7 linked regions of the Homo sapiens genome follow. The protein of the gene in region 1 interacts with the protein of each later gene in a pairwise test. Each region holds a gene or a part of one and is shown in the gene's direction. Other genes may lie near its edges.

Evidence for each region.
Region 2: the proteins of PRKAA2 (region 1) and ZBTB8A interact in binary tests that used the Homo sapiens proteins (3 or more experiments, as listed by UniProt).
Region 3: the proteins of PRKAA2 (region 1) and HOMEZ interact in binary tests that used the Homo sapiens proteins (3 or more experiments, as listed by UniProt).
Region 4: the proteins of PRKAA2 (region 1) and USH1C interact in binary tests that used the Homo sapiens proteins (3 or more experiments, as listed by UniProt).
Region 5: the proteins of PRKAA2 (region 1) and RFX6 interact in binary tests that used the Homo sapiens proteins (3 or more experiments, as listed by UniProt).
Region 6: the proteins of PRKAA2 (region 1) and DNAAF6 interact in binary tests that used the Homo sapiens proteins (3 or more experiments, as listed by UniProt).
Region 7: the proteins of PRKAA2 (region 1) and SOHLH1 interact in binary tests that used the Homo sapiens proteins (3 or more experiments, as listed by UniProt).

Annotation. Positions count from the first base shown.
Region 1 is NC_000001.11:56,713,575-56,715,835, forward strand, and holds the end of PRKAA2 (5'-AMP-activated protein kinase catalytic subunit alpha-2), read left to right. Parts: 3' UTR 1-1,761; downstream 1,762-2,261. UniProt on the Homo sapiens protein: Catalytic subunit of AMP-activated protein kinase (AMPK), an energy sensor protein kinase that plays a key role in regulating cellular energy metabolism.
Region 2 is NC_000001.11:32,542,427-32,545,926, forward strand, and holds part of ZBTB8A (zinc finger and BTB domain-containing protein 8A), read left to right. Parts: intron 1-3,500. UniProt on the Homo sapiens protein: May be involved in transcriptional regulation.
Region 3 is NC_000014.9:23,276,133-23,279,632, reverse strand, and holds part of HOMEZ (homeobox and leucine zipper protein Homez), read left to right. Parts: intron 1-2,445; coding exon 2,446-3,500. UniProt on the Homo sapiens protein: May function as a transcriptional regulator.
Region 4 is NC_000011.10:17,523,917-17,527,416, reverse strand, and holds part of USH1C (harmonin), read left to right. Parts: intron 1-85; coding exon 86-194; intron 195-376; coding exon 377-401; intron 402-606; coding exon 607-664; intron 665-975; coding exon 976-1,070; intron 1,071-2,881; coding exon 2,882-2,966; intron 2,967-3,500. UniProt on the Homo sapiens protein: Anchoring/scaffolding protein that is a part of the functional network formed by USH1C, USH1G, CDH23 and MYO7A that mediates mechanotransduction in cochlear hair cells. Required for normal development and maintenance of cochlear hair cell bundles.
Region 5 is NC_000006.12:116,929,242-116,932,661, forward strand, and holds the end of RFX6 (DNA-binding protein RFX6), read left to right. Parts: intron 1-2,089; coding exon 2,090-2,265; 3' UTR 2,266-2,920; downstream 2,921-3,420. UniProt on the Homo sapiens protein: Transcription factor required to direct islet cell differentiation during endocrine pancreas development. Specifically required for the differentiation of 4 of the 5 islet cell types and for the production of insulin.
Region 6 is NC_000023.11:107,209,611-107,213,110, forward strand, and holds part of DNAAF6 (dynein axonemal assembly factor 6), read left to right. Parts: intron 1-3,262; 5' UTR 3,263-3,265; coding exon 3,266-3,418; intron 3,419-3,500. UniProt on the Homo sapiens protein: Plays a role in cytoplasmic pre-assembly of axonemal dynein.
Region 7 is NC_000009.12:135,696,682-135,700,976, reverse strand, and holds the start of SOHLH1 (spermatogenesis- and oogenesis-specific basic helix-loop-helix-containing protein 1), read left to right. Parts: upstream 1-1,495; 5' UTR 1,496-1,509; coding exon 1,510-1,574; intron 1,575-1,850; coding exon 1,851-1,982; intron 1,983-2,500; coding exon 2,501-2,648; intron 2,649-3,349; coding exon 3,350-3,471; intron 3,472-4,171; coding exon 4,172-4,295. UniProt on the Homo sapiens protein: Transcription regulator of both male and female germline differentiation. Suppresses genes involved in spermatogonial stem cells maintenance, and induces genes important for spermatogonial differentiation.

The DNA of each region.
Region 1 (2,261 bases):
TTTTGAATAATACGTAGAATTTTGACAAGGTTCATACAGTGCATACAGTGTGACCTTTTCTGAGGTGGGCAGGGAGGGTTGCTACGTTGTGTTGATTTAAAATTTCAAGGAGGAACAAAAACATTCTAGCCAAGGAGAATTGCATTGTTATTTTTTTTTCTACTAATTTAAACGTGCATTTTTCACAGTTACACATTTAAGTTTTGCTACCAAAAATGGCCATTTTTCTAGACAGATAACATTTTCCTAAAGTGGAAGAGAGATCCACTGTTCTAAAAAAAAAAAAAAAAAAAAACACTAAATTGTGCCTTCTCCCTTAAATTATAAGAAGAGTAATAGTAAAAACTTGTTTAAACTATATTTTCTTTTTTTCTAATCCCTCTCAGTTCTCCTTAGATCTGCCTCCTACAAATGATCATGTTGTTTGCATCTGCCTGATTGAGTTCCCTTGGTCAAACCTCTCCCTATCACTATCAGAAGTTGTTCACTAAATGTATTTTCCTATTTCTTTCATGTTGATTGACTTTATAAGTCACCTTGGTAAACATAACATTTGGCTACCTTCTCATGCTTTATAAATGAATTTGATGAATGGCAGTTTTTATATTTTAACCCTTTAAAAAGTTTGTCAAGGAAACAACTCAGAGCTAAGAACAAAATCTAACTTGGAATCAGTTTCTTCCTTTGGCTGCTGAAGCAGCAGCAAGTCACGTAACCTCATTTAGTTTTTTGATTTACAAAATGTGGATAATAACCTACCTCACAGATGTGTGTGAGCAACTGTTTGAAAGCCCTTGTTTAAATACAGGGTTTATATCCCCACATTCAATGTAAATTCCTTTTTTTAAAAAAAATAAGTATCTTTGATACTGATAGGATGAGTATCTTGATTTTTAGGTAAGATCACAGTTTCACAAATTGTGGTGTTGTTAGGTGACATTTAATATTTCTTGAGACCTCAAGTATTCAAATATCAAACTTGTCCTGTGTTGTAACAAATATTCAGAATCTCTTAAAATGTTGGCTGAAGCTGCCTTAATGTACCAAAATACAGCTCTCAAGACTGTTCACAAATATCTGTGGTTGTACAATGTTTTGAACATTTAATGTAAAGTTGTTGTAGAACTGTGAACTCTAAGGATAGTATCTTTATTGTTTTAGGAAGAATGGTTGTGTTCTTTGTCATGTATGCTTAAATATACAGTGGATTTTGAATGCAACAAATAAAACTGAAAACAGCCATTTGGTTGTGTCATGACAATCATAATATAGGATATAATATTTACTTTTTTTCAAAAACATCCTGCATTCATTCATTCTTAGCATACCTTTGAAAAAGAAAAAAAAATCCATAGGTTGATACATTGACCCATTGAAGTACTTCATTACGTATTTATTGAAAATTTTTTTTAATTGTTGAAATTGGGACCACTTTTTATAATTGGTTTCAAGAAAAAAAAATGAACAGACTTCCAGTGCTTTTCTGTTCAAATAAACTCCGATTCAAATTTCAGTTTTGTTTGTTATATACTTTTTGTGAGTGTTAAATGATATGGGAAGGATTTGTCTTTCATTAACCATATGGAAAAGATGTCTTCCTGAATTACATAGCATTTCATAGTTACAGATTCTTCCTAATTAATGTTTGCACCATATGAAACTCATAGGTAACAAACACAAAGGAGAAAAGCAGCCTGTCTGATTGCTTATAAGCTTTTTTCACAAAATCAAATTAAAAGTCTCTGATTCATTTGAAAGCTATTTTTGTTTCTGCTCCATCATTATGCTGGTATTCTGCACACCAACTAATAGTTACAGGAAAGTTGTTAGTGGAAAAGATTGCCTATACTCATTGGTGATTTCACACCATCTTTTTTCATTTTTGTCATCTTAGTTGTACATTATAGTTTTTAACTTGAGTTATTGCATTGGTTTTCTACTGTTGCTGTAACAAATTACTACAAACTTAACGACTTAAAATACAAATTATTTTATTGTTCTATATGTTAGAAACCCAGCAGGCTTAGCTGGTTTTTCTGCCTCAAGTCACACAAGCTGAAAACCAAAGCATTGATAGGGCTGGGCTGTGGAGGAGAATCTGTTTCCAGTTGCATTGAGTTGTTGGCAGAATTTCATTCCATGGTGCTGTAGGATTGAGGTCCCTGTTGCCTTTTTGGCTGTTGGCTAGGAATCATTTAAAGCTTCTAGAGGCCATCATCCCTTGGCCCTTGGCTCCCTTCATCTTCAAAACCAGCAACAAG
Region 2 (3,500 bases), about 24 Mb from region 1:
ATTAGCACACAGTGGCAGGCACCTGTAATCACAACTACTCGGGAGGCTGAAGCAGGAGAATCACTTGAACCTGGGAGGCAGAGGTTGCAGTAAACCGAGATTGCGCCACTGCACTCTAGCCTGGGCGACAGAGCAAGACTCCGTCTCAAAAAAAGAGAGTTGATCTTCTCAACGACAACCTTAGTTCAAGTTACACTCGCTACTTAAATCTTCAGTCTACTCATAGAAATACATGTCATTGGCTTCTATTCCAAAGACTTTCGAACTTAATGGTTCCTAAAATGTGTAATTGTCTTTCCCAACCACCTTTTTAAAGATCATTGAACTTGATGGAAATCTTGAATTCTGTTATATTCTTGGGACTATTATAATATTTAACTCTTACAGATATTTAAAATGTTTCCATTTGGATTTTGGATGTCCCATATAAATTGATCTAACTTGCTGTTTCAACGTATAAAGTCACTCTACTGAAAGAAGAAAATCTGAAATGCATTACCGATTTCCATGACCTAATCACATAATTCTGAAAATAACTTAAACCTTTTTTGATGACTCAAGAGTACTACTATGAATGCATGTTATGTTAAAATCCTTTCAATGTGAATATCAGGTTGTAACTGACCCCAGTGTATAGGACAATTCCTATTTTTTTTTTAGATATAACTTTTTTTGAGACGGAGTTTCACTCTTGTTGCCCAGGCTGGAGTGCAATGGTGTGATCTGGGCTCACTGCAACCTCCGCCTCCCAGGGTCAAGCAATTCTCCTACCTCAGCCTCTCAAGCAGCTGGGATTACAGGCACCTGCCACCATGCCCGGCTAATTTTTTGTATTTTTAGTAGAGACGGGGTTTCACCATGTTGGTCAGGCTGGTCTCAAACTCCTGACCTCAGGTGATCCACCCGCCTCAGCTTCCCAAAGTGCTGGGATTACAGGTGTGAGCCACTGCGCCTGGCCTGAGATATAACTCTTACGCCATAAAATTTACCCATTTTAAAGTGTACAATTCAGTTTTTTGATATGGTCACAAAATTGTGCAACCATCATGACCCTCTTAACTCCAGAACATTTTCATCATTTGCATAAAGAAACCCCATGCCTGTTAACAGTCACTCCTATTCCCATGTCTCCCTAGCTCCTGATAACCCCTCATCTACTTCCTATGTGGATCTACCCATTCTGGGCATTTCATGTGAATAAAATCATAAATAAAATATGTATTTTTTATGACTAGTTTCTGTAACTTAGCATCAGGTTTTTTGTTTTTTAGACAAAGTCTCGTTCTGTCACCCAGGCTGGAGTGCAATGGCGCGATCTCGGCTCACTGCAAGCTCCGCCTCCTGGGTTCACGCCATTCTCCTGCCTCAGCCTCCCGAGTAGCTGGGATTACAGGCACCTGCCACCATGCCCGGCTAATTTTTTGTATTTTTAGTAGAGACAGGGTTTCACCGTGTTCGCCAGGATGGTCTCGGTCTCCTGACCTCATGATCCGCCCGCCTCGGCCTCCCAAGGTGCTGGGATTACAGGCATGAGCCACCACACCCAGACTTGTTTGTTTTTTAGAGACAGGATCTCACTGTCACCCATACTGGATTGTGGTGGCGTAATCCTGGCTCACTACATCCTTGACCTCCTGGGCTCAACCAGTCCTCTGCCTCAGTCTCCCAAGTAGCTGGGACTACAGGCTCACGCCACCGTTCCCAGCCAGCATGAGGTTTTTAAGGTTCACCCATGTTGTAGTATATACAGTCATATGTCACTTAATGATGGGGATATGTTCTGAGAAATGTGTTGTTAGGTGATTTTTGTTGTTGTGTGAACATCATAGAATGTACTTACACAAACCTGGCTGATATAGCCTACTACACGCCTAGGCTGTATGGTATAGCCTATGGCTCCTAGGCTACAATCCTGTATAGCATAATACTATAGGCATTTGTAAAACAATGGTAAGTATTTGTGTATCTAAACATATCTAAACACAGGAAAGCTGGGCACAGTGGCTCACGCCTGTAATCCCAGCACTTTGGGAGCCCAAGGTGGGTGGATCACCGAGGTCAGGAGTTCAAGACAAGCCTGGCCAACATGGCAAAACCCCGTCTCCACTAAAAGTACAAAAATTAGCCAGGCATGGCGGTGGGTGCCTGTAATCCCGGCTACTCAGGAGGCTGAGGCAGGAGAACTGCTTTAACCCAGGAGGCGAAGGTTGCAGTGACCTGAGATGGTGCTACTGCACTCCAGCCTGGGGGATAGAGCAAGACTTTGTCTACAAAAATAAATAAACAAATAAATAAACACAGGAAAGGTACAATAAAAATATGGTATTATAATCTTATGGGACCACCGTCGTATATGTAGTCAGTTGTTGACCAAAATGTTATGCGGCGCGTGACCATATCAGTACTTCATTCTTTTTATGGCCGAGTTACATTCCATTGTATGGGTATACCACATTTTGTTTACCCACCTGTCCGTCAGTGGACATTTGGATTGTTTCCACCTCTTAGCTGTTGCAAATAATGCTATTATAAACATTCGTGTATCAGTTTCTGTGTAGACGTATGTGTTCATTACTCTTGAATATATACCTAGGAGTGAAATTGCTGGGTCATATGATAACTCCATGTTTAATCATTTGAGGAACTCCCAGACTGTTTTCCAAAGTCGCTGTACCATTTTATATTTCCACCAGCAGTGTGTGAAGGTTCTTACTTATCTATACTCTGGCCAACACTTAGTATTTTCATGTTTTTTAAAAAATTATTATATCTCTGGAAAAACATGGAAAAAAAAGAAAATATAGAAAAAGAAGAAGAAAAAAATTTTAAAAAATTATTGTAGCAAACTATCCTAGTGGGTGTGAGGTAGTATCTCATTGTGATTTTGATTTGCATTTCTCTAATGATTAATGATGCTAAACATCTCTTCATGTGCTTATTTCTATTTGTCTTATTTAATCTTATTTATTTTAGCGATTATCTTATTTAATCCTCTTAACAGACTTCCTTAGAGCCTCTAAACAGTCAATAACCTCATTTTACAAAAAGGAAACGAATGCTTAGAGTTAAGTAACTTGACAAAGTCACACAGCTAATGATTGGTAGACCTATAATCCTGTGTTTCTTCTTTTTAAAATCCTTCAGAAGTGCCTCAGAACCCCCAAAACTGGAGGGGCTTCCAAGATCTAGCTCTTACATACTTTTCTAGTTTCATCTTCTGCCATCCTTCTGTAGGCCCACAGTCTCTAGCTATAGCAAACTTCTTACCATCCCCTAGGAGGCCATGCTGTTTAATACGCTGTTTTTGCCTTCCCATTTGGTGCTCTCTCTGGCTAGAACGCCTTTTGCCCTCTTTCTCATGTATAAACTTCTTTTCATCCTTCAAGACCCAACCTAAACGTTGAGCCTTTTGGAAATGTTTCTCAATACTACCAGGTACAATCATTTGCTTTCTTTGTTTTACAGTTCCCTTCTACTATGAGTATTTTCTTCATTGTATT
Region 3 (3,500 bases), on another chromosome or scaffold:
TATGTTCAATTCTTTGCCTTCTACTTTTAAACTTAACTTCCTTGTAAAGCAACCTTTTTCGATCACCTGCTCCACCCTGACTCATTCCGATTACCTGCTCTGCCCTGACTCATTCTCCACCCTGACTCCTTCCGATTTCCTGCTCTGCCATAACCATTTTCCCCACCAAACCACTCACCCGGTCACTCTCTTTAAATTAGCCAATCGGAATTAGTTTAGCCTGTGCGGTCTAACCCTAGCCAATATGGGAATGACAGCGGCAGGGGCCACCTGTGTCAGGAATAAGAACTTCTTCCCCTCTTTTGTCCAGGTGTGTGCTCACCACTGCTCCATCTATGAGGGCGCACCCTTCTATAGAAGTAAATTGCCCTACTGAGAAGAAAAAAAAAAGAAAATTTTATATTCGATTGCTATTTCTTTTGTGGCACCGAAACTTTATTTATAACAATAGTGAAACTTCGTCTCTACTAAAAGTACAAAAATTAGCTGGGCATCATGGTGCACGCTTGTAATTCCAGCTACTCAGGAGGCTGAGGCAGGAGAATCACTTGAACCCGGGAGGTGGAGGTTGCAGTGAGCCAAGATCACGCCACTGCACTCCAGCCTGGGTGACAGAAAGACTCTGTCTCAAAAAAAAAAATAGTTATTAACAATTCTGGCCAGGCGCCGTGGCTCACGCCTGTAATCCCAGCACTTTGGGAGGCCGAGGCCGGTGGATCACTTGAGGTCAGGAGTTCGGGACCAGCCTGGTTAACATGGTAAAACCTCGTCTCTACTAAAAATACAAAATGTAGCAGGGCATGGTGGCACACGCCTGTAGTCCCAGCTATTCAGGAGGCTGAGGCACAAGAATCACTTGAACCCAGGAGGCGGAGGCTGCAGTAAGCTGAGATCATGCCACTCTACTCCAGTCTAGGCAACAGAGCAAGATCCTGCTCAAAAACAAACAAACAAACAAACAATTCTGAGGGCCGGGTACAGTGGCTCACTCCAGTAATCTCAGCAGTTTGGGAGGCTGAGGTGGGAGGATCACTTGAGGCTAGGAGTTTGAGACCAGCCTAGGCCACATAGTGAGACCCTGTCTACAAAAAATTTTAAAATTAGCCGGATATGGCTGCATGTACCTGTAGTCCTAGCTACTTGGGAGGCTGAGGTGGGAGGATTGCTTGAGCCTAAGAGTTCAAAGCTGCAATGAGCCATGATCATGCCACTGCACTCCAGCCTAGGCAACAGAGTGAGACCCTGTCTCTTGAAAAAACAAAAACAAAAATGCACACACACACAAACCAGTTGAAATTATTGCTCCTCTTGTTTTTGTGGTTGAGTCTTCACTATGTGATTCTTGTTCCATGAATTTAGAAGGTGAGAGTTGGTGGATAGCTTCTAGAAGTGGGTTTGAATAGGAAAGATAAAGGCTGTATCAGAGCTATGATGGTGCCACTGCACTCCAGCCTGGGTGGCCTGGGTGACAGAGCAATATTATCTCTTTAAAAAAAAACAACCCACCAGCTGGGTGTGGTGACTCATGCCTGTAATTCCAGCTTTGGGAGGCCAGAGGCAGGTGGATCACGAGGTCAGGAGTTCAAGACCAGCCTGGCCAAGACGGTGAAACCCCATCTCTACTAAAAATACAAAAAGTAGCCGGGCGTGGTGGCGGGCACCTGTAATCCCAGCTACTCGGGAGGCTGAGGTAGAGAATTGCTTGAACCTGGGAGGTGGAGGTTGCAGTGAGCCAAGATCATGCCACTGCACTCCAGCCTGGGCGAGAGAGTGAGACTCCATCTCAAAACACACGCACACACACACAGACACACACATACACACTAAAAAAAGCTATATCAGGATCAGTTTTCCTTCTTAACTTCTAAAGACAGATTTTTTTTTTTTTTGATAGGGTCTCACTCTATCACCCAGGCTGGAGTGCAGTGGTGCAATCATAGCTCACTGCAGCCTCAACCTCTCAGGCTCAAGCAGTCCTCCTGCCTCAGCCTCCCAAGTAGTTGGGACGACAGGCACGAACCACCATGCCCAGCTGATTTTTAAATTTTTTGTAGTCTCACTGTGTTGCCCAGGCTGGTATCAAAGCTCTGGGCTCAAGCAATCCTCCCACCTCGGCCTCCCGAAGTGCTGGGATTACAGGCATGAGCCACCATGGCTGGCTTTAAAGACAGATTTTTTTCTTGGAACAACACTCACCAGTCATGTGGCTTGGGGTAATTTAACGTCTATGGACTTTGGTCCACAGAAAATGGGAATTAAAGCAGGGTCTGATGACTTAAGTTTATGAAAATTAAATAAGAAATTGTTGAGGCACTTAAAAAGCAATACAACATGATACAAATACAGATTAAATTGTTCTGGTGTCCAGCAGTTAGTTTGGTAGAAATTGAGCAGTGTGTCAGAAGAGGAGACCCAGTGATTGAGCTGTTTGTCTTCTTATTGCAGCTATCTCTGAAGGGCACAAATCAGAAGGCACCATGCCTCCTAATAAAGAGGCCAGCGGTCTCAGTAGTTCACCAGCGGGGCTCATCTGCCTCCCTCCAATCTCTGAGGAGCTACAGCTTGTGTGGACGCAAGCAGCCCAGACCAGTGAGCTAGACAGCAATGAACACCTGCTCAAAACCTTCAGCTACTTTCCCTATCCCAGCCTAGCAGACATTGCCCTTCTCTGCCTACGTTATGGGTTGCAGATGGAGAAAGTCAAGACTTGGTTTATGGCCCAGCGCCTCCGCTGTGGTATTAGCTGGTCATCTGAAGAAATAGAAGAGACTCGAGCCCGAGTAGTCTACCGTCGGGACCAACTCCATTTCAAATCCCTTCTCTCTTTTACTCATCATGCGGGACGGCCCCCAGAGGAGGTGCCTCCTCCTCCAGTGCCAGCTCCAGAGCAAGTTGGTATTGGAATAGGTCCTCCAACTCTTAGCAAGCCTACCCAGACGAAAGGATTGAAGGTAGAGCCTGAGGAGCCCTCTCAGATGCCACCACTGCCACAGAGTCACCAGAAATTAAAGGAGTCCCTGATGACACCTGGCAGTGGAGCATTCCCCTACCAATCAGATTTTTGGCAACATCTTCAAAGCAGTGGCCTCTCAAAGGAGCAGGCAGGCAGGGGTCCCAACCAGTCACATGGCATAGGTACTGCTTCCTGGAACCACTCCACAACCGTCCCCCAGCCACAAGCTCGGGATAAACCCCCACCAATTGCATTAATTGCCAGTAGTTGTAAGGAGGAGTCAGCATCTAGTGTTACTCCCTCTTCTTCCTCTACCTCTTCTTCTTTCCAGGTACTGGCTAATGGAGCTACTGCCGCCTCTAAACCCCTCCAGCCACTAGGCTGTGTCCCACAGTCAGTGTCACCCAGTGAACAGGCATTACCCCCACATCTGGAACCAGCCTGGCCCCAAGGGCTACGGCATAACTCAGTACCAGGTAGAGTTGGCCCCACAGAGTACCTTTCCCCAGATATGCAACGCCAGCGAAAGACCAAGCGCAAAACCAAA
Region 4 (3,500 bases), on another chromosome or scaffold:
CAGTCCGGGAGCATCTGGTGGTGAGTCTGCCCCACTGCCTGATGCTCCCTCCACCTGGTGCTCCCTGCCTCTCTCTGTGGTCAAGGTAGGGGACGAGATCGTCCGGATCAATGGATATTCCATCTCCTCCTGTACCCATGAGGAGGTCATCAACCTCATTCGAACCAAGAAAACTGTGTCCATCAAAGTGAGACGTGAGTGAGGCCAGAGCAGGGCAGTACTCCATGACGGTGGGAGGGAGGGAGGGCGGGGGAGCAGGGCAGTACTCCATGACGGTGGGAGGGAGGGAGGGCGGGGGAGCAGGTCAGTACTCCATGACGGTGGGAGGGAGGGAGGGCGGGGGAGCTGTCCTAACCCCTGTGCCTTTCTCCCGCAGACATCGGCCTGATCCCCGTGAAAAGGTGAGAGGCCCCTCCTCTGCAGGCCAACTCTTCCCTGTGGGCCCAGGATCCTGGTACAGCCCTGGGGTCCGGCTCCCACCATGCCAGCCCTGCTTCTGGGCCAGTGGAGGCTGGAGGCTCTAGACATGGTGGATCTGGATGTGGGGCCTGGTTCCTCAAACGTCTCTCGCTAACCACCCTCCCATCTATTTTCCCTTCCCATCAGCTCTCCTGATGAGCCCCTCACTTGGCAGTATGTGGATCAGTTTGTGTCGGAATCTGGGGTAAGGGCCAGACCTCCTGTGATGGGGTTTGGGTGGGGTCATCTTCAAGGAGGGGTGGCCGGTCCTGAAGGGAGGGCTTGCTCTAGAGATGCACCCTCAGGGGCTTCACACAGGCTCCCAGGGCAGCCAGCACACCGCTGTGGGGCAGCAGCCCTCGGCCAGGCCCAGCTGGTGCAGACACATCCCCAGGGACGGAATGATGATCTGGCTGGCGTGAGTTCAGCAGTGCTCGCCCTGCAGATCCCACAAGCTCAAGAGGCCGCTTGCACGCATGTGGACACTCCGTGATTCTGCTTCTATCTCTCTTTCAGGGCGTGCGAGGCAGCCTGGGCTCCCCTGGAAATCGGGAAAACAAGGAGAAGAAGGTCTTCATCAGCCTGGTAGGCTCCCGAGGCCTTGGCTGCAGGTGGGTGGCAGGCATGCCCTGGGGTCATTCGTGGCCAGTGCACCCCAGCAGGCCCCTATTGCCCTCCCCTTCCTCACTGCCACTTCCGAGGAAACCTTGCCCACCAGGGGTGTGACTGTCCATGGGTGATGATACTTTTTTTGTTAGATACAGGGTCTGACTCTGTTGCCCAGGCTGGAGTGCAGTGGCATGATCATAGCTCACTGTAGCCTCAACCTCCCCAGCTCAAGCAATCCTCCCACCTCAGCCTCCTGAGTAGCTGGATCTACAGGAACACACTGCCATACCCAGCTAACTTTTAATTTTTTTGTAGAGATGGAGTTTTGTTATGTTGCCCAGGCTGGTCTCAAACTCCTGGGCTCAAGTGATCCTCCCACCTCAGCCTCCCAAAGCCCTGGGATTAGAGGCATGAAGCACCGCACCCAGCCTTGGTGTTGACACTTCTTGGTGCCTGATTTCCCCTCTGAACTTCATGACAGGCCTTTAGGGCCAGAGGGTCATCTCTAACAGAGCCCAATTTACAGATGAGGAAATTGAGGCCCAGAGGCAGAACAGTGTTACCTTGTGGGCCCTTGAGTCACTGCAAAAGGAGCCTGTTTGGCTGGTCATCTCTGTCACAGCTCTCTTGTCACTTATTAACTTGTTGGCTTCCTTAAGAGGCAGACAGGGAATTCCGAACAGACACTGGGCCACACGGGGCTTAAGCATGCAGGTGCCACCGTTACTCAGATCCCAGTTCCAGCCCTGCTTTCCCACTTAAGAGCTCTGGAACCTTGGGCCAGTTACTTAACCACTTTGAGCCTCAGTTTCTCCCTCTATAAATGGGCGATAATAATTCCCACATCACAGGGTGGTTGTGGAGAAAGTAAAGTGCCAAACTTAGTACCTGCTAAATAGTAAGCAGTTGGTAAATATTAGCTATTATTATTTAAGTTATCCCTGTTCTTTCCTTTCATTCACATTTATTCAATGTTTTGTGCCAAGCACAAGTGATAAAAAGTCCCACCTTTCTGGGAGACAACAGCCTAATCTAGAAGCCAACCAAGTAAATAGTTATAATATAGGGTGATAGGGACTCGAACGGGACTACATTCTGCGTCCAGGATGGCAAATAGGTGCCATCTCTAGTCAATGAGTAGCAGCTCCCTGGAGTGCTGCTTTGAAAAGCATTCTAAAGCTGTATCCAGGATTGTGGGAAAGAGTGCTGTGATCAATGAGTGACTTCTGCCACCAATCTAGGAAGGAATACTAACAGTACATGTACCATCCTTGCCGTAAATGTCATAGGAGCACTGAGAACAGAGCGGCTAGTTTAGTCTTGGGATAGAATAAGGGATCTGAGCCAGGCATGGTGGTGCACACCTGTAGTCGCAGCTAGGCTGAGGTGGGAAGATTGCTTGATCCCAGGAGTTGGAGGTTGCAGAGAGCTATGATCACACCACTGCACTCCAACCTGGGTGACAGAGCAAGACCCTGTCTCTAAAAAATAAATTTAAAAAAATAAGAGGATCTGGTAAAAACCTTATAGAAGGGATAGCATTTGAGTCTTAATGGATGGACAGGAAAGTGCTAGAAAGAAAGAAGAAACAGCATATGAGGTATATTAGGTGAGAGGTTGGGTAGGAAGAATTACAAGGATTTTTCTGTGGCTGTTGCCCAGGGTAGCAGTAGAAATCAGGCTGGAGAGGGACACAGAGGCTGAAGAGGTAGGCAGTCAAGGGCCTTCAGTCCTCAGCTCATGAGTGACCTGTATCCTGAGCACTGGACATGGGTTACCTGAATCCCGAGCACACATTTCCCACCTCCCGCAGCATTTCCAGCGGCCCCATCCAGAAGCCTGGCATCTTTATCAGCCATGTGAAACCTGGCTCCCTGTCTGCTGAGGTGGGATTGGAGGTGAGTGACGCTGGGCCGGCCCCAGTGGGGGCCCACTGGAAATTGGGTCAGACTGTGATCCCGCGGTGACAGGGGCAGGTGCCTTTCCACATGGCCCTCTTTCAGTGGACACTGAGGGAGTAGGAGCCCTACCCACCCTGCAGAGAAGGCTTCACAGACTGGGGATGTTTGACCCTTCTGCAGCCTTCCCCAGCTCTGATAGTTGTTGGTCACGAGCTTGGGAATGTCGTAATGGTAATCAAAGAGCGGACCTTCAGTGTCCACTTGCATCAGACATTGTTCCATGCCCTTTACACTTCACAAGAATGCTGAGGGTTAAGTACCACCATTATCCCCACTTTACATATGAGGAAACTGAGACCCAGAGAAAGTATATGATTTTTCCAAAATCGTGTACCTCATATGGTAGGGCTGGGATTCAAACCTAGGTGGTCCAATCCCAAAGCAGGAACCCTTAACCTCTTCTTTGGACAAGTTACTTCATGTCTGTTTGCTTACCTGTAAGATGGGGATAATACAGGCTTTCTTCCAAGG
Region 5 (3,420 bases), on another chromosome or scaffold:
AAAGATTAATATGACCTGTCAAATGCAGTCTAAAACTGTAAGTTTTAAAAGGGCAGTAATAATATCCTTTTCTCACTCTTGATTAGTGTTGGACCCAGTTGTAGTGCCAAGAGATATCTTTAGGCCTCATGATCTCCATCAGTATCCAAAAATCACTCCAAGATTAAAAAAAACTGGTGTCCTGTGATGGGTGCTACTAGCATTTTCTCATTCTTATGTAAAATGTGATTCAACACCTCTGTAGAAAATGTTGCCATTTTTATTGCTCTCTAACATATCATGTAAGTAAAAATAAGAAAAACGTGTGCTTGCCGTGAAGCCTCCTGGAATCTTCTTCCAACCAGGTTACATTTCTTAATCCTCATCTATGAAGAAATTCTGCAATAATAATTAGTATGTTATTAGTAATAACATAGATTTAGTCACTATAGATTTAGTTTCTAAAAATACTAATAAGATTTCACAGGGCAAGTATATATTCACTAAGTATCAAAGCAGAGTGTTAATATTTATATGAGATGGTTAAAGTCTTCCAATGAGATTGATTTCAGACTAGCATAAGTAGAGGGCATTGACACGCAACCAGAGCATAAGGGAAAATGAAATCAATTTCATCTCTCCTCACTCAGTGTACCTTCCCAATAATTCAATAGGAAGTACTCCTTCTCTTCCTGTCACTGTCACACATGCTCCCTGAGCAGAATCTAGCAGCTCATCTTCTGCTATCTGCAAATGGTCATTGCTTCTAGGTTACTCTAATGAAGCAGAAAATTCCACTTCAGGAAGTTTTCTCACCATGAGACTAAAATGTACTGTGTTGCTATTGTTACTATTAGTTCTGTTTACCTGAAGAGATAGTGGAAGCTTTGACGAAACATAGGTTAAGAGTAGGGTGGAGTCTAAGCTTTAGTTTATCAGAGCTGGCTTACAAGTAGATTACAAAGTGTGCTGCAGGGTAAAATGAGGGGATAGAATAAGTGGATAAGTAGTGCAAGGAGAATTGAGTTCAACTATTTCTTAAGTATAAAGCCTGGTTCTTAGACAGAGAGCACGTCATGTCAGCAATAAGAAGGCAGCAACCATATATGAGAGAAATACAGGGCTAGTGAGCCAGTTAATGAATTTTATTGAGAACCGACTAGGAGCCAGACCCCATTCTAGATGTGAGGATATGGTGGTGATCAGGCCATAGTTCTTGCCTGTAAGAAGTTTACATTCTAGTAGAGGGACAGTAAGGCAATAAATACATGAGCAAATGCATTAAAAAGATAATGTCAAGTACTCTGAACCTGATTAAATAGAGTAAAATGACAGACAGTAAAGGAGGAGCTGCTTTCGGTAGGACAGCTGAGAAAGGAATCCTGAGGCAGAAACATTTGAGTTGAAAGCTGAGTGATGAGAAGGAGGCAAAGATGTGAAGATCTGAGGGAGGAGTTCCAGGCAGAAGAAACAGTGAATGCAGAACCGCTGAAATCAGAATAAATTTGAAAAAATCAATGGGCAGAGAGCAGGCCAGTGTGTCTTAAGCATGTTGAATGAAGGAGAGAGTAGAGCAAAATAAATAAAAAATCAGGGGCCCATCTACATAGGGTAAGATGCTTGGTTCATGTTCCAAGGGTATCGGAAGCCACTATGGCATTTGAGACGAGTGAAAGTTTGATCTACTCTTCAGCAATATCATTCTGGTTGCTCTCGGGAAGGTGAGTGGGTGAAACAAAGGTGGAGATCATGGGACCAGTCAGGAGGCTGCTGTGTTGGTCCAGGAGAGAAAAGATGGTGGTTTGAACTACAACCGTGAAAGTGCAGATGGAAAGAGGAGGTTGATTGGGGGATATATTTTGGCGGTAGCACTTAAGTTGAAATGGAGTTTTCTTTGTGAAATATGTAGAGGAAATAATTTCTGGGAGACTAGCAAGTGGGAACAAATGGAAGAAAAAATGATTGCTCTGGTAAACCATACAGACTCAAATTTAGAATAGGTATGTGTGCTAAGTGCAAAAATAAATACAGGGTATTAAAATGAGTGGCATTTGCAGAGAAAAGAAAATGTCAATCAATTTTCAATTGCTGATTATATTTTCCCTTACAGCTTCCAGTTTGCAAACCCCAATTCCTTCTTCCTCATCCCAATGTATGTATGGAACTTCCAACCAGTATCCAGCTCAAGAAACCCTGGACTCCCATGGAACAAGCAGTAGAGAAATGGTGTCCTCTTTACCACCTATCAACACTGTGTTCATGGGAACAGCAGCTGGAGGCACTTAAACCACCAATGTGGGAGGGGGTGCTAAAACTTTAAAAAAAATCTCTACTGTGCAAATATCATTATTCACTCAGACTTCCATAAGAGTAAATAAAAATGAATATGCAGTGGCTGACATTGTTTTAAAGTCACTGGTACTATGGACAACTCCATAGTGAATGGAGATACTTGCAGAGCTTGTCATGCACACTAAGAGTTTAAAATGTGAGCTCATTATTAATCATAGTTTCAAAATTATCAAATAAAACCAGTGAAGATCTGAAGATGCAAACATTTCAACTATGAAGATTTACATTTCACTTTCTAATTTATTAAACATCTGTGTGCCTTTTTATCTTTGGTTTCTTTTAAAAAGTATATTTAATGCCTTTACAATACCTTTAATTTATTAGGATCTCAGAATCATTGTTTACTATCCCTTATTTGACAAAAAGTCAAATGTGTATGTTCTACCTCCAACGGAAATGTTTACAAGGTCAAGACTTAATTCAATTCAGACAAGACCAAAGTTGCTTGACTTCAATTCCTGTGCATTAGTGTGATGATTTCTGTCACATAGCAGCATTCCGATTCTATGTAACTGAATGGAGATGATAAGTGCTTTCCCCTCTTTATTTAAAAAAGATTAAAAGGAATAAAAGAAATAATGTATGGAAATATTTTTAAAGGCTTGGTGCTCTTGGGGCTGGTACTGTTTCTGAAGAATGCTGGGGATTTACTCTTTAATCTCAGCTCCTTTGGAAATGAGATTAAGGAGTCAAGTAGTGTGGTTAAACACTATAATTTAAAAACATTTGCATATCATATCCATGCCTATACATATAAAGAAATTGTGAATTGTAGACTATTTGAACCTTTTCAGATTTAGAAGCAGTCTTTTACCAAGTACTTTCTTATACATTGAAAGTCAATGAGTGTTCAGGGATTAGCTAGATGCAAAGCCTAATTCAGAAGTGAAGGAATCATTACATATAAATTAATACAATTTGATAACACTATCTATCTTTCTACCTCTGTTTCTTTTTCTTTTCCATATGTCTTCACTGAAAGGTCTGTTGTAAAGTTCCTGGCCTGTGGTAGGAGACTTCCATAAACTTTACAGGCTTCTCCTATAGTCTTATGACAAGCCTCATATTATTTGTATTAAGGATTAGGTT
Region 6 (3,500 bases), on another chromosome or scaffold:
TTTAGTAGAGTCGGGGTATCGCCATGTTGGCCAGGCTGATCTTGAACTTCTGACCTCAGGTGATCCACCCACCTTAGCCTCCCAAAGTGCTGGGATTACAGACGTGAACCACTGCGCCCAGCCCTGCTTGGTGGTTCTTTATCACCCTGATTTTATTTACCATATATACTTGAATTAATAAAATCTATTATCTATTTGAATAGTCTGTAATTCAGAGTTTTCACTAATTTAACCTAGACTTTTCTACAATTAACTGATGTCAAAAGCCATCTTTATTGATACTGTGAAGGAGACAAATAAAATAGAAAGCATGATCCCAGCCTTAGAACCAGTCTGACTTTAACTCAAGGTTACTGATGTTGCTTAAGTGCTGTGGGTCTGGAGCCAATCTGGTTGAACTTTTTCAGCCCCTGACTGGCTCCAGTGTTATGGTAATGAGCTGGTTCTGGAGTGTCAGTTGCTTTAGCTCATTGTGGCTAGTAGATGGTCCAATCATGCCTCTATTTATGAAGACCCCAAGTACTCAGGTTAATGTGGGAAAATCAAAGGCTCTGTCTGGAAAATGTTGCCATTAGCATTGGCCTAGCAAAAGAGAAGGAGAGAAAGAAAAACAAAGGGCCTAAAAAATTTATTTTCTAAATACAAATCTCAAATAAAAGACAGTAATATATTTTGTTTTTACTGAAACTCTTAAATTTTCCTTACTTTAAGTTTATTCTTGGCCTATTTAAGTGACAGTGCCAGATTCAAACATTTTAGGCAGTGTGGCTCCAGAATCTTCTTTTTCATTTTTTATTGTTATTATTTTATTTATTTATTTATTTTTGAAACAGGATCTCACTCTGTCTCCCAGGCTGGAATGCAGTGGCCCGATCTGGGCTCACTGCAACTTCCATCTCTGGGACTCAAGCAATCATCCTGCCTCGGGCCCCTGAGTAGATGGGACCACAGGGGCACACCACCGCGCCCGTCTAATTTTTGTATTTTTTGTAGAGTCGGGGTTTCGCTATGTTGCTCAGGCTGATCTCGAACTCCTGAGCTCACGTGACCCGTGAGCTCACCTTGGCCTCTCAAAGTGTTTGCATTACAGACGTCAGTCAGCCACCATACCCGGCCAGAATCTTCTTTTTAAAAATCGCTACACTGTACTATCCAATAAGTCAGGGCAAAAGGAAGAATGCACTCCAAGGTACAAAGGCAGGAAATTATAGAGTATGTTTAATAAGCAGTTTAGTTTTTAACAGAATATGTAGGAGAATAATAGAAGGGAAGGACAGAAAATTACGTTGGGACTATATCCTGAAGGACCTTGATTGCCAGACTCAGGATGAACTTAAATGTATATCACATTTAGAAATAAAAGATAGAGCTATAAACTAACACTGCATAGTTCATTGTAGTGAAGATAGTTCCCTACAAATAGTTCTTTGTAGTTCCTAAAAAGTCCTCCTGTTTTAGTTTTTCAGCTGTGATCCACTTGTGTCAAATGAATTTTAATAAATGTTTTTTAATAAAGTTGAATAAGTTATTCTAAATATGTTAGACTTCTTAAAAAGCTAGTAGAATCTTCCTTTCCATTGAATTTTGAATGTTTTTTTCTAAAAATTCACAAACTGTTTTTCTCTTTTGATACTTTGAACCATTTAACTAGTTAGTCACAAAATATTTGGGATTCTTTTGTTTATCAAAATACAATATCAACAAACTTGTCATGATTGATTTATTTATTTTTGTTGTCATGATTTATTAATTTGTGTTTACAGATTATTATTACATTTGATATGGCAAAAATATTTTGGCTAAAGTGGTAATTTTATTATTATATTTCTATTTTAATTGAGCTATAGTGCAAATCTATGGCATTTTATTCCAGCATAATTTGGAAGTCCAATTGTACTTTAAGAAGTCTAACTCCTAATATGCTTCAGATATATAAAGTGTTACTAAGAATTATTGTGAATAATTTAACAAAAACAAGTGTACACGTTCCAAGGAGGACCATCCCCTTCGAAGTAGTCACTTTAGGAGACTAATCTATTTACTCTAATGTTGTTGTTATTGCTAAAATTGCTTTTGAAACTTCTGTTTTAGAATCACCTTGAGGCATGTAGCACATTCTTTTGAATATCCTCAAAGAAGAAAATCTTCATATTTTGAAAGTAGACATGATATCTAAATATATCTAGAAATCACTTGGCGACAAATCTGATGTGTAATCAAACCAAATGATACCATAATGATACCATAATGATACCTATTTTCTTGGTGATACATATGAAGGCAATTCCAAATAAAAAGAAAAATCCCAAAATATTTTGAGCATTGATAGCATAATTTACATCAGTGTATAACCTTCCAAATGACTATTTTGAAATATAACATTCAGATGAATTTAGTCATGCTTCATTTGGTATTAATCAACTGCTGACTATGTGCCAGCTGCAGTTATTAAAGACACTAAATCTACAGGTATAGCTTCCCACTGCTCACACTGGCCTACTTCCCACCTAATGAGAACCAGGCCAGAGTTCCTTTCCAAATAACTGGTAGGGATTCAGAATTAATCTGGTTTTTCTGAATCCAGTATCCAATGTACCAAAGGAACCATAACATTCCTTCATAACCTCCACTGTGGGTACCTAGGTGACACGAGAAAGCCACCGACACAGTGCCTGGTTTGTTTTCTCTTTTCCAGCTGGAACTTTGAGCCCTATTCTGCCCTATTCTGAACCTTCATCTCTAGTAGTCAACTTGTGCACAAACCTCAAGAACTGTACCCCACCTTCTATAGGCCAGCGTCCTTCTTCACTTTAAATAGGTCTCCCTGTAACCATGACTTCAACCTTTCTGCCCTGAAGCACTGCTCATGTCTAAAAAATATGTTCCCAAATGATGATACATAATGTATCATACACTTTTTCTAGAGGTAGGGCTTAAGAATCTGCATTTTAAACCAACTCCCCCAAGTGATTATTAAGCACATTAAAACCCGAGAACCACTATACTAGGTGCTCAATAAGTGCTTGTTAGCTTGAGTATGACATTTTAGTAAAGCAGGCTGAATGTTTGAGTTTACTTGGTGCTCCAGGTCTGTGAGTTAGCAAAATACATATATTTGAAGGAGTTTAAAAGGATTTCCAAGGAAGTATAAGAACCAATGGAGTGATCCAGGGAAAGAAGGGAGATATGACAATAAAACATCTTCATGTCTTAAATAAAACAGAAAAGTAAAATACCTCTTTCTGATTATCTTTTTCTTCAGATAATGGAATCTGAAAATATGGATTCTGAAAATATGAAGACAGAAAATATGGAATCTCAAAATGTAGACTTTGAGAGTGTTTCTTCAGTTACAGCTCTGGAAGCCCTCTCTAAGCTACTTAATCCTGAAGAAGAGGATGATTCTGACTATGGACAGGTGGTCATATACTTAACAGTTGAATTAGTTTTGTTCATGGGAAGTTGTGGAACTGTATTTGAATAACCTGTTCCCACCTAGC
Region 7 (4,295 bases), on another chromosome or scaffold:
AGCAGTAATTACACGTGTTGTCAACGGCAGGAGAGTCACAGGTTTGATGACATTCCGAGGGCTTTAGGGAAACAAAAACTTGGCCCCACTCTGCCACTGAGGAGCCCCAGATCGCCAGCCCGTCCATCCCTCCCTGGCCAGGGGCAGGGCCGGGAGAGGGGCCCAGGTCCCCGAGAGCTTTTGCCCTCCTCTCCAACCCCGTCCTCCTCCATGTCTGACCTGCAGCCAAGGCTGGGCGGAGCAGGGATGGAGACACCACCTTATATTACATAACCTCCCTCTGCTCCAAACACCCTTCACCCATCTTTGGCCCAAAGTCCAGGATGCCAGCCCGAGGCCCAGAGCCGCGCCTTCTCCACAGGAGACTGGGGCACCCCGGACAGACGTCCCCGTGTGGTGGCACCTGCCCGGGCTCCTTCTTGCCTCCCCTCTCGGGAGGAGAGCCCCTGCCACCCACCCCACCTCCTCCCGCTACGACCTCAGCACGAGCCAGGCCAGGGATGTCCTCCCAACAGTCCAGCCTCACCCCCCACCCTCGTCCCCTCTGCTTCCCTGAGGGCCCCCCGCAACCTCCGTGAAAGAGGAAGGGTCTCCACCTCCCCCTTCCCTCCGTCATCCCCCCAAAAGTATGTACTGGGGGACTCAAGCCCAGCGCAGGGCGGCTCCTGGAGTTCAGCGGGGAGGTGAGCAAACACCTGGCGCCGGAGCTTTCTGAATTTGGATGGGCAGGACCCCCGCGATCCCGCAGAAACCTGTTGAGAGTGTGAGGTGAGGGGTCGAGCTGGGGCCCCAGGGCATAAAGCGGGGATGGTGCTTGGGCAGGGCCAGGTGAAGGGACAGACGGTTCCGAGGGTGCCCGGCAGAGCTCAGCGGGAGGAAGAGCACGGACGATGGTGGCCTGGGGTGGGGACAAGATGCCCCTGGTTCTGGGCGACCCAGAAGTGTGGATGGTGACCCTACCCTGAGGCGCAGCGTCTGCAAGCGTACTAGATTTGGGGGAAAATGGAGGCGTGGGCGACTGGGGAGCAGGCGGGTACCCTTCCCCCTCCCTGTGTCCCTGGGTCCCCCAGGCCTGGGCTAAACAACTCAGCCCAGCCCGCCCACTCCCACCAGGGGCTGGGCTCCTAAGGGCAGAGCCCGCATCTCCAAAGTGCCCAAGGGCACCGAGACCACCGCATAAGTGGGAACCGAGGCGACCCCCGGGAAGGTAAGGGTAGAGGCAGGGCCACCTGGGCTGGGGCCCCTTCCCCTGGCGTCCTGCGGGGGCATAGAGTGGGTGGACCCCCCGAGTCCCTTTCCAGCACCTTCTTTGCAGGAACGCGGGTCACGTGGGCCCCGGGCTGGCTGCGTGGGGAGGGCTAGAGCGCATGCGCTATGGGGGCGGATTGCAAGTGGGGGTGGGGTGGGCTAGGTGGAAAGCACGTGGCAGGTGGGCAGAGCACACGTGAGGGGGCGGGGCTGCCTGCGGAAGGGGCCGTGCGCGTGGGGTCGCTCCGCAGCTGCGAGTTCATGGCGTCCCGGTGCTCCGAGCCCTACCCGGAGGTCTCCAGAATCCCTACCGTCAGGGGATGCAAGTGAGGAATTGGGCTGGCGGCCAAGGGGTTGGGGGCCCAAGGCCTGTACCCAGGGGTTCTTCCGCAAGTTGCTGGGCTCCACCCATCCTGGGCCTCCTGGGGCGGAGCCCTGGACCCTGGGAGAGGGGAAGGGGTGCAGAGAGGGCCGGGCCGTGTCCCTACGTGACCCAGTCTTGGCTTCCACCCGCACCCCAAAGACGCCCATTCTGGCATCTGGGACTCCTGGTGGCCTTTTCTGGGGTTCTCAGGGCCCGGTGCTCTTGGCTTTCTCGGCAGCGGCTCCCTGTCTGGTGCCCTCTCCTGCTGCGAGGACTCGGCCCGGGGCTCGGGCCCGCCCAAGGCCCCTACGGTGGCCGAGGGTCCCAGCTCCTGCCTTCGGCGGAACGTGATCAGCGAGAGGGAGCGCAGGTGAGTGGTGGTGCCTCCCAGGGGTGAGGGCGCTGTAAAGGGGTGGAGCGGGTGAGATTATGTTCGGGGCTGCCACCAGGTGTCAGGCAGCTGGGAGGGGCTCGTGGCCTGTGCCCAGGAGAAGGACAGACTGCACATCTCCAAGTAAACCAGAAAAGCCCTGTTGGGGAACATCCTGCAGCCCCTCTTTATCCTGAAGCCTTGGCCTCTTGAGGCTGTGCACCTGTGACCCTCTGTGCTTCTGACTGCCTCTGACCCTCGCTGTCTTTTCCACACCGCAAAGCAGCCATGGTTTGGGCCTGGGCTGGACAGCCTGTCGCCGAGGTCCAGGGGTCAGGCCCAGGCTGTGCTCTGATGTGGATCTCGGGGCTTCAGACCACGGGGGCAGCTCTGAGTCATCTTGTAGCCCCCTCTGCCTGACAAGCGCCCAGGGTCTATCTGGCAGGTTCTAGCAGTTGCTGTCCCTTCTCGGGGAGGGCAGGAGGGCCCAGAGGTATTTGTTTCTTGACCGGAACCAGGAAGCGGATGTCGTTGAGCTGTGAGCGTCTGCGGGCCCTGCTGCCCCAGTTCGATGGCCGGCGGGAGGACATGGCCTCGGTCCTGGAGATGTCTGTGCAGTTCCTGCGGCTTGCCAGCGCCCTGGGGCCCAGTCAGGAGCAGCACGCTGTGAGTTGTAAGGGTAGACGCCGTCAGTCCTCCGGCATCACGGTGATGGGACATCTCACCACCTTGCAGGCAGTGTGTCCCCTGTCATCCCCGTCTCCTTCAGCCCTCTGGGTCTCCACGGCTAGAGCAGGCCACGTTTTCGGCAGGGCACTTCCTGATTTGTTCAAGCCTTACCTGTTGTTATTCTGTTCCTGGAAAGGAGCAAGCCTTCCTTTCCAGCCCTCCTGTGCCCCTGAGTCCTGTTCATTGATGGGTTGCCGAGATGCTCCGTGCCAATTTGGGGGAGAGTTGGGGTCTCCTGATCCTCCCTGGCTGAGCACCCCCTAGATCATTTCTCTGCACGTCTCCAAGAGAGAGGCTCCTCTCCCCTCTCCAAGGCTCTGGGGGCTCTGGCTGACCCCGTGAGTGCTGGGGCTGAGGACCTGTGTGGGGAATGAAACTGTGTTGTCATCTGTGAGGTCAGGGGTCCCAGCATTTGCAGTGAGGCCCTTGGGTATGCACAGCCTGATTCAGGAATGGTGGGGCCTTTCGGGGGTGGAACCTCAGCCTCGTTGTCAACCTGTACTCTCGCCCCCAAGTTCCAAGCGGGGACCGAGCTCACAGTGACCCTCCAGGCCCTGGGGTAGCAGTCTTGTCACCGTGTCTTGGGTTTCTCAGCTGACTGTCTCTGTCTTTGTTTTACATGTTTACTTAAATTTCAGATTCTTGCTTCCTCCAAGGAAATGTGGCACTCGTTGCAGGAGGATGTTTTACAGTTGACGTTGTCGAGTCAGATTCAAGCAGGTGTGCCAGACCCTGGGACGGGAGCGTCCAGCGGGACTCGGTTAGTGTCTCCTGGGGCCCGCTCTCCAGGGCTGGGTGACCCTGGGAGCAGCAGACCCAAAGCCCCCTGGCATGTCCTCGGGAGGGTGTGGCCTGGAGGCCCGGCTTGGCCTCCGCAGGTGGTGACCTGCCCAGGGCCCTGCCAACTCAGGTGGCCAGGTGTGAGGTGACCAACATGGGCGAGCTCCAGCAAGGGGGGAGCGCGGTCAGCAGAATTGAGGGCCTGGGCTGGTGTGGAGGTGGGAGGTGCCCGGGAGGATCTCTTCTGCTCCTGTGTGTGGGGAATTTACAGGTGGTCAGTGAGGTGTCATACTCCTCCCCATGGGCAGCTTCAGGAATGCAGTTTTCTGAAGTCAAGATAATTTGGTTCTTTTCAGAATGGCAGCTCCCCAGGTTGAAGGACTGTCTGCATCTTGTGTTTAAATGTACCCATTTTACCCCAAAGCAGGCTGGGGCATGGGACTGGTGGCTAATTAGCTGTGGAAGAATCTAGAACCGGAGGAGTTGGGCAGAGGGAAACTGGGTAGACAGCTGTGGAGCTTGGCTGGCCCAGGGCCCCTGGGCAGAGGCTGGCTTGATGCTGGGTGGTGCCTGGGGTGTCCTGGGGATGGGTCCAGCCCTCTGCTCTTGGGGTGGGTGGGGGCAGCCTTCCAGGGGGCTGGGGAATAGACCCAGGATCCTTGTCATGTTGCTCCTTCTAGAACCCCAGATGTGAAGGCGTTTCTGGAAAGTCCTTGGTCCCTGGATCCAGCGTCGGCCAGCCCAGAGCCCGTGCCGCACATCCTTGCGTCCTCCAGGCAGTGGGACCCCGCGAGCTGCACGTCC